Regions from separate parts of the Homo sapiens genome. Here region 1 is linked to region 2. Evidence: fine-mapped expression QTL. A gene starts in region 2. The other region holds a variant in brackets. All regions are shown on one strand. Distances are between the middles of the regions. Region 1 has its middle 47 kb from the start of FCN1. Region 2 holds the start of FCN1 (ficolin 1).

What was found. PIP is the estimated chance that this variant, and not a neighbour inherited with it, causes the effect. A credible set is the group of variants that fine-mapping cannot tell apart.
Region 1: its variant is the best candidate, but not a certain one, in a credible set for the expression of FCN1 in whole blood (GTEx, PIP 0.82).

What each region holds. Positions count from the first base shown.
Region 1 is chr9:134,962,699-134,968,069 of GRCh38, forward strand. No RefSeq gene overlaps it. Among named protein-coding and RNA genes, the nearest start is that of FCN1, 47 kb to the left of the region's middle. The variant C/G (reference allele first, on the strand shown) is at 2,299.
Region 2 is chr9:134,914,909-134,920,279 of GRCh38, forward strand. It overlaps FCN1 (ficolin 1), which reads right to left and starts at 3,004. Exons shown (of 9, transcript NM_002003.5): 1 at 2,861-3,004; 2 at 1,440-1,553. The coding sequence starts at 2,963.

The DNA.
Region 1 (5,371 bases), 48 kb after region 2:
CCTGGGTTCAAGCCATTCTTGTGTCTCAGCCTCCCGAGTAGCTGGGATTATAGGCATACGCCACCACACCCGGCTAGTTTTTGCATTTTTAGTAGAGAGAGAGTTTTGCCATGTTGGCCAGGCTGTTCTCGAACCCCTGACCTCAAGTGAGCCACCCACCTCGGCCTCCCTAAGTGCTGGGATTACAGCCATGAGTCACCGCGCCCGGCCGCTCCTTAACATTGTTGAGCTCCCCTTTCCTCCTCTGCGTAATTAGTAAGATCTCTTCCACCTGCCTCATGGGCTGACTGAGGGAACAACCCAGACAGGGATGATCATGACGGTGCTGTTGGCTGACTGTGGGGCTCGACACTGTGCTCATCACTTTATGCATCTGAGATGGAAATGGTCTCAGCCACAGGCACAGATGGGGAACCCAAGGCAAAGAGAGGTTAAGTAACTTACCCTTGGTCATGCAGACAGTGGCTGAGCCCGAATTCAGCCCCAGTGTCTTTAACTCCAGGTGTGAGGGCAGCGGCTCCAGCACGCGAGGCCCCAGGAGCCAGGCACTGCTCACAGCACCAGGCGTGACCGCAGCGGCTCCAGCACGCGGGGCCCCGGGAGCCAGGCACTGCTCGCAGCGCGGGTCGCTCACGTGTTCTTTGGAGGCAAATCCATGCGGCGTTCACACACACGGACCTTGCAGTTGCTTGCGCCTTTTTTTCTCTCCAACTCATCACAGGGCATGACTTCTCTCCAAGCTGCCTGAAATAAAATGAATAACTTTTTATGTGAAGTTCTTCGTGCTGAAGAGAACTTGTTCCAAATGGGGAATAATTGGCCTTCCAGGGCTCCATACCGGCAATGAAGTGAAAGATGCTGACGTTTCAGAGGTGTGGAAATAAAAGGACTAAAAATGGGATTCGGAGCAGCTAATGAGGGCAGATCCGCAGGGTTTGAGAGACAAAATGGGGATCGCAGGTGGAAGCTGGCACCGCGGCCAGGGGCAGCCCACGCAGCAGCGAGTGGGGCCGAGGTCGTGGGCGGGTGTCCGGACCCTCATCACAGGAACTTGCTGGAACCCCCAGAGGCCCCGGCCTCTGCTGGCTTTGAGGCCTCAGACCTCCCTAGTCCAGTCACGAGCCACCGAGCCCCCTATACGAGTCTGCTCAGCGGCTGTATGAAGCATGTTATGTTTGACGAAGGATTAAACACCAGAAATGTATTGTCCCCGGTTCTGGAGGCTGGAAGTCTGAGATCAAGGGGCTGGCAGGGCTGGTTCCTTCTGAGACCCCTCTCCCTGGCCTGTGGGTGCCATCTTCTCTCTCTGTGGGTGTCCATGTCTTTACCACCCCTTCTCCTAAGGACACCAGTCCTATTGGATTAAGGTCCACCCTAATGGCCCCATTTTAACTTAGTTACCTCTCTGAAAATCCTACCTCCAAATACGATCACAGACTCCAAGCTGCTGGGGTGAGGACTTCAACATGTGAATTTGGGGCGAGGGGCAGCTTGGTTCAGCTCCTAACATGCATGTCAGCCACGCTCTCACTCACTCATCCTTGTTTTGATTCGTTTACATGGTGCATGTCTCCGGTGCCTACTGTGTGCTAAGCTGGGCCAAGACAGAAGCTGCCTGCCAGGAGCCCAGTGCCCAGTGGAGGAGGAGGGATGGAGCAACAGGGCAGTAGGACGGGGTGTGGCTGTGCCCCAGATGGGGAGGAGTTAGCCCTGGCCCCATGTGCAGTGCAGCCTCCGGGTGCCCACCGCTCTGGGACTACAGAGTAGCTCCTTGGACAGTCATGTCTTCAGAACTGAGAGCTGAGATGACCCAGTTGGCCCATATTAGGCAGTTTCCAGTCCAGGAAAGGAGGGGGTGGCATCAAGACCTGAGCTCTGGGGAGCACATTTTGGGGTCCACATTCTTGCTTTGCTTGTGGAATGCCTGCAGGAGCTGGAGGCCACGCCACAGAGCCCTTGGGAGGAGAAACGGCCACGTGTGGAGGGCAGTCTGATGGCAGGTATCCACGCTGAAGATACATGTGTCCTTTGAACCAGCCCCCAGTTCCCTGGGAGAATGTCTCAGATCCCTAGGCAAAGGCACAAAGATCTGGTGTGTTTACTGCTGTAAGAGACAGCCCCAAACCTCGGCAGTTTCTCCCAACATAGAAACCCACAGAGCGATGCTGTGATCCAGGTCCTGCCTGCTCCATGGTACCACCCTTCTCTGGTTCAGCAGACAGAGAGGGAGAGAGCGTGAGGACCACACATGAGGGGTTTTATGGCTGACCAGAAGCAGAACACAGCACTTCCTCTCAC[C/G]TCCCATTGACCAGACTCCAGTACACACAGGACCGCCTGAGAAACATGTGCACCGGGGGAAGAGAGCGTGGTTGGAACACCAGCCATCTCTCATGCAATATTTATCTAAATTCTAAAATAATTGAGCATTGAATCCAACTGGAACTCCCTGTAGGTGAGGGGTTAAAGACATTTAATGGTGTCACCGGGCATTTGTCCATTATTCACTTACTCAAGAAACATTTATTAGGGCATCATGTTATTTGAAATATAATGCCTAAAATATCAAAACTAATGACACATATCCACATTTCCAGATGCAAGACCTTCTCCTTGACATGTTTAAATGAAAAGATCAGGATTCAACATGGGTTGTATACTATCATCCAATTTATAAAAATTAAATATTTATATCTGCAGGCATAAGCCAGCATAGAGAAATATGGAAAGATTTTCACAGAAATTCTAAGATATGGCTACCATTTCTTTGGTAATCCTCACTTCAAGAGGTGGAGTTCAACTCATTTCCCCTTGAACGTGGGCTGGACCTGGTGTCCGGATGGGTTACAGTGTGGCCTCAGAGTTGGTCAAGCCTGGCATTGCAGCCTCTTCCTGCTTTCTCTCGTGCATCACTGGCTCTTGGGGAAGCCAGTTGTCACATTGCAGAGACCCAGGAACAGCCCTACCAGGGGCCCACATGGTGTGGACTGAAGCCCTCTGCCCATGGCCAAATGCACCAGCTTGGAAGCAGCTCCTCCCACCCCAGTTGAGCGTTCTGATGAATACTGCCCTGGCCAACAACTTGACTGCAACTTCATGAGAGACCCTGGGGCAGAAGCACCCCAATTCCTGACCCACAGACCCTGAGATAAGAGATGTTTCTTGTTGAAACTTCTATGTTTTGGGTTAATTTGCTGCATGGTAGCAGATGACAAACACACCATCTTTGTGAGGTGATGGGCGGTGACGCTGGCCAGCCACAGCCTTCCCCCATGCTTGCCCTCTGTGTCCACTCAGAGCAGAATCTGAGAAACCCCTGGATCTGGTGCTACCAGGCCTGCCTCCCTGTCGTGCCCAGCCCTTCAGCCATCCCTTTGCAAGGACACATGCCTTGGTGAGTCATTGTAACTATTGCCTCTCCAAGGCCCAAACCCACAGGGACAGGCATCTCCAGCATGGGGCACAGCAGAGCCCTTAGCAAATTCTCAGCAAATGCGCCAAGAAGGAAGGCCTGCAGGCTTCTCTTTACTGTGCAGCCTTCCACGATGAACACGCATGGCTTTTAAAACTGGGGAAATAAAGTTTCTAAAGTAATCGAGCTGATCCAAGGACTCTCACTGATAACTTGAAAGGCTCCACAATGAGCAGGAAGACTCATGGTGACCAGTTCCTGACGCAGCCTCTAGGGAGGTAGCTGAGATGCCAGGGTGGAGCCGCCCTTGCCTTTCTCGCCTCCTAACTGTCTGGACGCAGGGTTGTTTGCCTGGAGTCAAAGAGGGTAAAAATGGGTTTGTTGCTTGGTAAGAAGACCAGGTGCCAATGCACCGAGGGTGAGACAGCAAGCCTAACAGAGCCAGGTGGGCGTGTCCTCCCCTTCGCTGGAACTCCTGCCTGCTGATATCAAGGTCGTCCTGAAAAGGCCGCTAGGGAGTTGGTCTTGATGCGCCTGTGGGCCGAGCAGGTGTCTAATAGCCTGAGGCCGCTGCCTATTTAAGAACCACTTTTCCAAGCCCCCATTTCTCCCATGACAAAGGGAACTCACGGGTGATGCCTGAAGGCCCTGTGTGCCATGGTGGCCAGCACGGTCCAGTCTGTGACCTTGTTCTGGGGGATGGAGAGAGGAGGAGGAGGGGGATCCCAGCCACCTGGAGCCTGCAGCTCACCCATGCCTGCCCTGCATTTAGCAGCCACAGCCCTGGCGGGGGACAATGGCCTTGCCGGGATTGGTGGGCAGTGGCACCAGAAGTCTGGGCTGGTTGCTACCCTCTGGTGGCCCTGGGCCCTCCTTTCTTGAATGTTCGGGCCAGTTCCCTCCTCTGTGCTTCAAGGCTGCTGGTGGACTCTGGGCTCTGCAGATGCCACATGCAGTTCTGGTCTCGGGAACAGCTTTGCAGCTGGGCTTACCTGATGTGAAAGCAATAAATGAGTCCCCCAGTGCCTCCCAGCCCAGACTGGGGCAAGAGGGGTTGCCCAAGGGGTTTGCAACTCACGCTGAGAGCAGCCATCCTGAGAAAAGCCTCTAGCTATGCTGCCCAATTACGCAGCCTCCTTGGGGGCACTGGGCCATCCACATCCCTCAAGTCCCTCAACGGTGACCCAGGGACAAGCCCCATGCCCCCCTCAGAGCCGCTGCACGGATGAAAAGAGGGAGAATGTCCCACGGCAGCGCCCCGCGTGGGATCGCCGGACAGGGGTGCCTTCGCAGGCCGCTGTAGACATGCAGTTTCACATTCATGCTTCACAATTGATCTGTGGGCTTCGTGTGTCCTCAGCTTTAGGAGATACGTCCGGGTGCCCCTCAGCAGTGCCTGTGCCACTTGCCCCCCAAGGGGCAGTCGACCTTCCTGTGCACCCTCAGCTCGTCCTGGTGGAGAGAATAAGGCTCCCCGAGGTGACCCCCTATCTGCGCTATTACTGCTGCCTTCTCAGACCATGAGAAGGAACCCTGAGAAAGAACTTCTTCAGTTTAGAGGGAGTGCGTCTGCGTCTGCAGTAGGCAGTAGCAGCAGGCAGTGGCCTGGGCGTGGGCAGTTGCTGTCAGCTCAGAGCAGGAAACGGGCAGCTGAGGAGGCCAGGCTCCTCGGGCATCTGCGGCTGCGTCTGCCCGCGTGGACATGGGACTCTCTCACTGCAGCCCCAGAGCGCAGCCTCAGCAGAACCAGCCTGCTCACAGCAGCCTCCTGTCTGATTAATCAGGGGGAGGAAGGGCTGCCCATAAGCAGACTCATTTTATTCTAATGCTGCTTTCTCAAGATTTTAATTTTCCATAGTGCTACATTCTAGTCCCCTTTCCTTAAAAAAAAAAAAAAAGAAGAAGAAGAAGAAGAGATATAATTGGGACAATCCTCTATCATATACATGCTATCTTATTCCA
Region 2 (5,371 bases):
CTGCCTTGAACCCCTTCTGGTTCCAGGAGCTCTCAGAATTGCTAGCCATGGATTTAGCCTGGGGGTGACTGCAGATGGAGGTGAGGGATTGAGGGAGGGGCCTGCACCCCACCTTGGGCTCAAGGCAAGGTGCACCTTGCTCCTGTTTGTGCCTTGGGAGCAACCTGGGTTTCACACTCTGTTGACCATAAGCCTGGACCCAAGTCACCCACACAGAGCTCTACTGCCTAGCAAGGGACCAGGTTCTGGAACAAAGAATGCGTCCTCAGAGAGCCTCATCCTACCACGTCCCCACACGGAGAGGGTGGGCGCCACGTGCAGCCGCTGCTGCCAGGGAGGATCCGGTTCCACCGTGCGCCTGAGCTCCTGGGGTGTCACACAGCGCTCCACGTGGTTCTGGCCAGAAAGGTGACCCTCCCGTCCCCGATGCCAGCCAAGAGGCAGCCCCCAGCCCGCTCGCTGACCCCAGTGGCTGGGGAGAGTGTATGGGGGCTGGTTCTTGCTTTAGGGTATATTAGCCAGCCATGCCCACTGGTAGAAGCCTGGTTCAAGGGAAGTCTGAGCCAGACTTGATTCTTCTCCTGCCAGGGAAGGTCTTCCTCCCCAGTGTTCCCTCAGCAGGGGATCGGGACCGCACTCTCAGGTCCAGCCTGCGGAGTGGGCACAGAGGACCTGGCCCCGGACACCCACACGGAAGCCTAGACACGTCAGTGAAAGTCCAAGTCATAGGGACATTTGAGCTTGTCCCATCTACACTGGGACATCCCCACCAAGTGCTCCGCAGGCATCATCTTGAATGCGTCCAGGCATGGGGAGCTCACCCCCTAAGGCAGCGCCCTTTCTGAGTTTTTGTGCACGTCTGCCTTATGCCATGCTTAGGGGGACCCAAAACCACCCAAGGCAGGTGCCTGCTGTTCATTCTCCCATGTTCCCTGCAAATCCACATGCAGAGCTCAGGGCTCAGGATTCGGGTGCCCTCTGTGCCCTGAAGTAGACCAGTCCAAGTCCCAGCCCCACTCCTTACTGGTTTGTCAAGTAGGAAAGCCTGTGACCTCTTTGAGTCTCAGTTTTCCCATATGAGGCAGGTGCAGAAGAAAGCGGTCACCTCAATTTTCAGGTGAGAAGGTGGAGGGACACAGAGCTTAGAAGTCGTGCCAGTAGCTGAGCAAAGCTGGTATTGGATCAAGGACTAGGAGACAGAGCTACAGAAGCATGTCCAAATGTGAGCTCATGAAATAGTTAGGAAAGACCCTCCCTCCATTTCAGAACCCTGTTGGGCCCTGGGAGTCAGCTCTGTTCCTGGCTCTAGCAGGGGCCTGACCCAGGCTCTTGATCTAGGAACCACGGTGGGGGTGTTGCCCAACTCTGCATCCAGTTTCATAAAGAGCAAGAGCCAGTGCCCCTGCCATGCCTGGCCTCCCCACCCGGCCCGCACCTACCTCTCTCTCCAATGACACCTGCCTCTCCCTTTGGCCCTGGGGCCCCGGGCAGCCCCGGGCAGCCTCGGAGAATGGTGAGCTTGTCAGAGCCCTCCAGGCCCACCACCTTCACCTCTGCAGAGAAACACAGGTGCCCACTCAGTGCCTGGCCCAACAGTGGCTGGGAAGTGAGGTTTTCTGCTCTGCTGGGGCCTTGGTCTGTCCTCACCCCTCAGGCACTGGTGAGGCGGAGATGTGATGGGGGGCAGAGCTCTGGCTTTGGAGGCCACCCCGACCTAGGGGAGCCCCATCTCCTCAGTGCTGTGTGTCCTGCAGCAAGTAACTTAACTCCTCTGAGCTTTGTGCCCTGGGCTGCCAAGCGGGGATAATAACAAGGTTGCGGCCAGGATTTGGTTAAAGAATGTGCATTTTAAATCTCTTATTGTAATTTATGGCATTTAGAAAGAGCTTAATAAACAGCGGGCACTTTCAATAACTAATGACAATCAATATTTCTAAGAAACTTGGGGAATTGGGGCTGACAAAGCATTTTCCCTCCCAGACCTTGGGAATGTGGTTGTAGAATTACTGGGCTGGAAGGGGCTTTCTAGGTCCTCTGGAGAGGGGCAGTGTGGGGTCCAAGGACACAGAGCCAGGTGTGGCACAGCTGCAGCCAAACCAAAGTTGTTTACTTCTTTGAAAAAATATTTTTCATTTTGTTCATTACAAAATCTACACGCCCTGCTAAGGGCGCTCTTAGAGACCATGGAACGGAGCAGTGCTCTCACCGGAGACATGGCACTGCCATTTTTGGGGTATTTCCTTTCTGTGTTTCCAGTCCTCCTTCCACTAGAGCAGGCTGTAATTTACTATTTATGTTTCCTTCATAAATATGTTATCAGCCAGGGGCACCAGGCCGTCCTTAGGAGCAGTCTCTTGCTGAGCGTCACAGAACCACCTGCTCCTGAATCAGTGAGGGAAACACCTTACCACCGTTCAAACCCTTGTCCCTATCAACTGATTCCGACTCTCTTGGAGGAGAGCCAGAAATCTGCCTTTTTAACAAACCCCCCAAGTCCGTGTGGCAGCCACCGTATTAGAGGGTCTTAGAGTGCCTCCCTGGTAAGCCCGTAAGAAGATAAAGTCAACAGTATTTTCTTCCTTCTCAGTGACAGATTCCAGACCCACCTATGAAGCTCCAATGGGCAAATCCTGGGCTTTCGAGGCAGACAGACCTGGTGACATCCCTCCCCTATCCCTCCATGACCCTGGGCAATGCCTCAGCTGCCCTGAGCCTCCATGTCCTTGCCTGAGGATAAAACAGATCTGTTGGGCATCTTCACAGGAAGATGTGCATAAAAGGTTTTGCCTGGGACACCCGAGTGTCAGTGAGTGGGGTTGTTACCAGCTTTTAGGGACCAGAAAACCCAGGTCTGTCTCACCTGGACATGTGTCCGCAGCCTGGGCAGGCAGGTTCTTGATATGCAGGAACAAGACTAGCAGGACAGCGAGCCCCCGGGCCATGGTGGCTCCACTCAGCTCCATGCTCTCTGGCCTTTGACTCTGAAGAGTCCCCCAGCTCTAACAGGGCAGAGGAAACCAGCTCTCGCCTTGTGCCACAGTTTCTCAACTCCCTGGGGGACACCCACTTCCTATGGGCTGCTTAGTTGCACCAACAGGAGGTATGAGGTCATCTCAAAGGATGTTTCCTTCCACTAGGCTCCAGCAAGATGCCCACCCCATTGGGCTCTCTTCCCCCAGCAAAGACACCCTGCTCCCAGTCCAGAGAGCTCCTGAGACTCCTCTGCTGGAAAGCATCGGCTTTGCTTGTGGCTTAAGGAGAACACAGCCCCCACACCCCCTTTCCATTCCCCAGCTGTCCCCAAGCAATACTCGGAAACCTTGACCTTAACCTTGGGGGATAAGGAAGGTTTTGCTGAAGACGCTTCCTTGCCTCATCTGTTCCCAGAAAATTCAGGGTTTGTCCGTCATCAGGCACTTATCATGGATGGAGAGGAAAAAAATGTTGAGCACTTGTTATGTCCCAAATACTATTTCCATCATATCATCTTGCACCAGCCCCATTCGGTGGAGTAAATTATTTGAAAGTTACAGCTGGAGAAATTGAAGTCACTCCACTAGTAAGAGCCAGGCATTGGACTCAATTCTGTCTAACGCCTTGTAGATCACTGGGATTGCTCATTTCACCTGAAGGTGGGGATGCCTCTTGTTCCCCCAAATCCCTGAGGCCATGTTCCTACTCCGCATCTCGTGCTGTGAATCATGCTTAGCCAGGCCACGCTGTGGACACTTTGTGCGGGATTTTTAGAACGTATAGAAATAGTCACTAACGAGAGTCAGATGGTAGCAGGACTAAGGAGCAGGGAGAGGTGTTGTTTTGTGGTTTGCAACTTCTCTGAGCCAGCGTGTGTAGACTGGGTTTCCAAACTCAAGGGCTCCCCAGGTGGGAGAGAAGTGGAGGGGCGGCCCAGGGGTGGGGGATCCAGGAGACACAGGACCTTGTGTCCAGGCTCTCTGGGCACCACAACGACTCTCGACTGTGTGTGTTTGTGTGTGTTGGCTCCAGCCTGTTGAGAGACAACGGCAGGAGGCTTCATTGCCTCAGACACCGCTTAGTGTCCCTGAGCTACTGGCCCAGGCGGGAGAGGTCTGGGTGTCAGTGGTGCGGCCTCCTTTCTTGGAGAGGATCCAATTCAGGAGCAGCACTCACCTGGGATTGGGTCAGAACAGGGAGAAAGCCAGCAGGTCTGTGCCCCTCAATTCCATTTGCCAGCTGCCCCCTGGGTGTGAGGGGACCTCCTCTTCCTTGCAACATCAATAGGTTTATTTCAGGTGAGAAGTCAACACCACCTTCAGATATCAAGTCAATGTTCCCAAGAGTATGAAAGAATGCAAGATTCTGGCAAGTTAAAATATCTTAACATTGGATCAACAAAAGTCATTTGATTCCTGGCAATGGCAGTTTAGGTATTTGGGGGCATCCTATTAAGGACAAACAGACAAAACCTTTAAAAAGAGATTTGCTCGAAGGCACCGTCAAGCTAGCTATGTAGTAAAGGATTACTTTGCCAAGCTCTCAGGAGCCACAGAAATCTTAGAGAAGTGAAACTAGTAGTGGGGACCTCTTTTTGCACAGGGATTTGCCAATCTCCAAAAGAGAGGTGAGAAGTTGGGCAGTGATTTCACCATCTTGCAGAGCTGAAGGTCAAAGACTGGGGCCTACGGCCTGCCAAAGGTATGGGTTTGGGGTTGGCTTTCAGAAGGGCTGCACCCTAGCAATAGGATGAGTGAGCAACAACCAACATTCACAAGGGCTGCAAACTGGTTTTGAGACATCTAAGTGTCCCAGGAAAGGAATCTCAACTCCTGGAATTATTGCTCATGCCCCCAGGCTCCTTGCTGAAAGAAACAAAAATCTTCTCTGAAGGAGAATGACATCATCCCAGGTCATTATTTCTGCAAAGTGTTTTATTTTTTTCAAATGAAATGTTAAAACACAATCAACGATAACCAGGCTCATGGGAATAAAAGACAATGTGTATAAGGACCAACAGAAACAACAGAATATAGAAAGAGGTCTTTGGAAGCTGTGGATACAGAAGTTACAACATAATTAACAGGAAAAATGGAAAACCATCCTCAGAGACTGAGAACAAATAAGGATGCTTGTCATCACCACTGTGGTCAACATTGTATTGCATGTCACTGTCCAGTGCAGTAGGCAAGAGAACAAAACCATAAAAAGATTGGAAAGGCAGACACAAAGTTGTTATTTTCAGAAGACATGATTGAGGATGTAGAAAATTCTAGAGTTTCTACAGATAAACTAGCAGAATAAAAAGTTTAGCAAAAATCAATTGTGCTTCTAAAAACTAGCCTCAAAGAATTTAAAAATGAAATTTAAAAAATTTGCATCAGCAACACCAAATTCA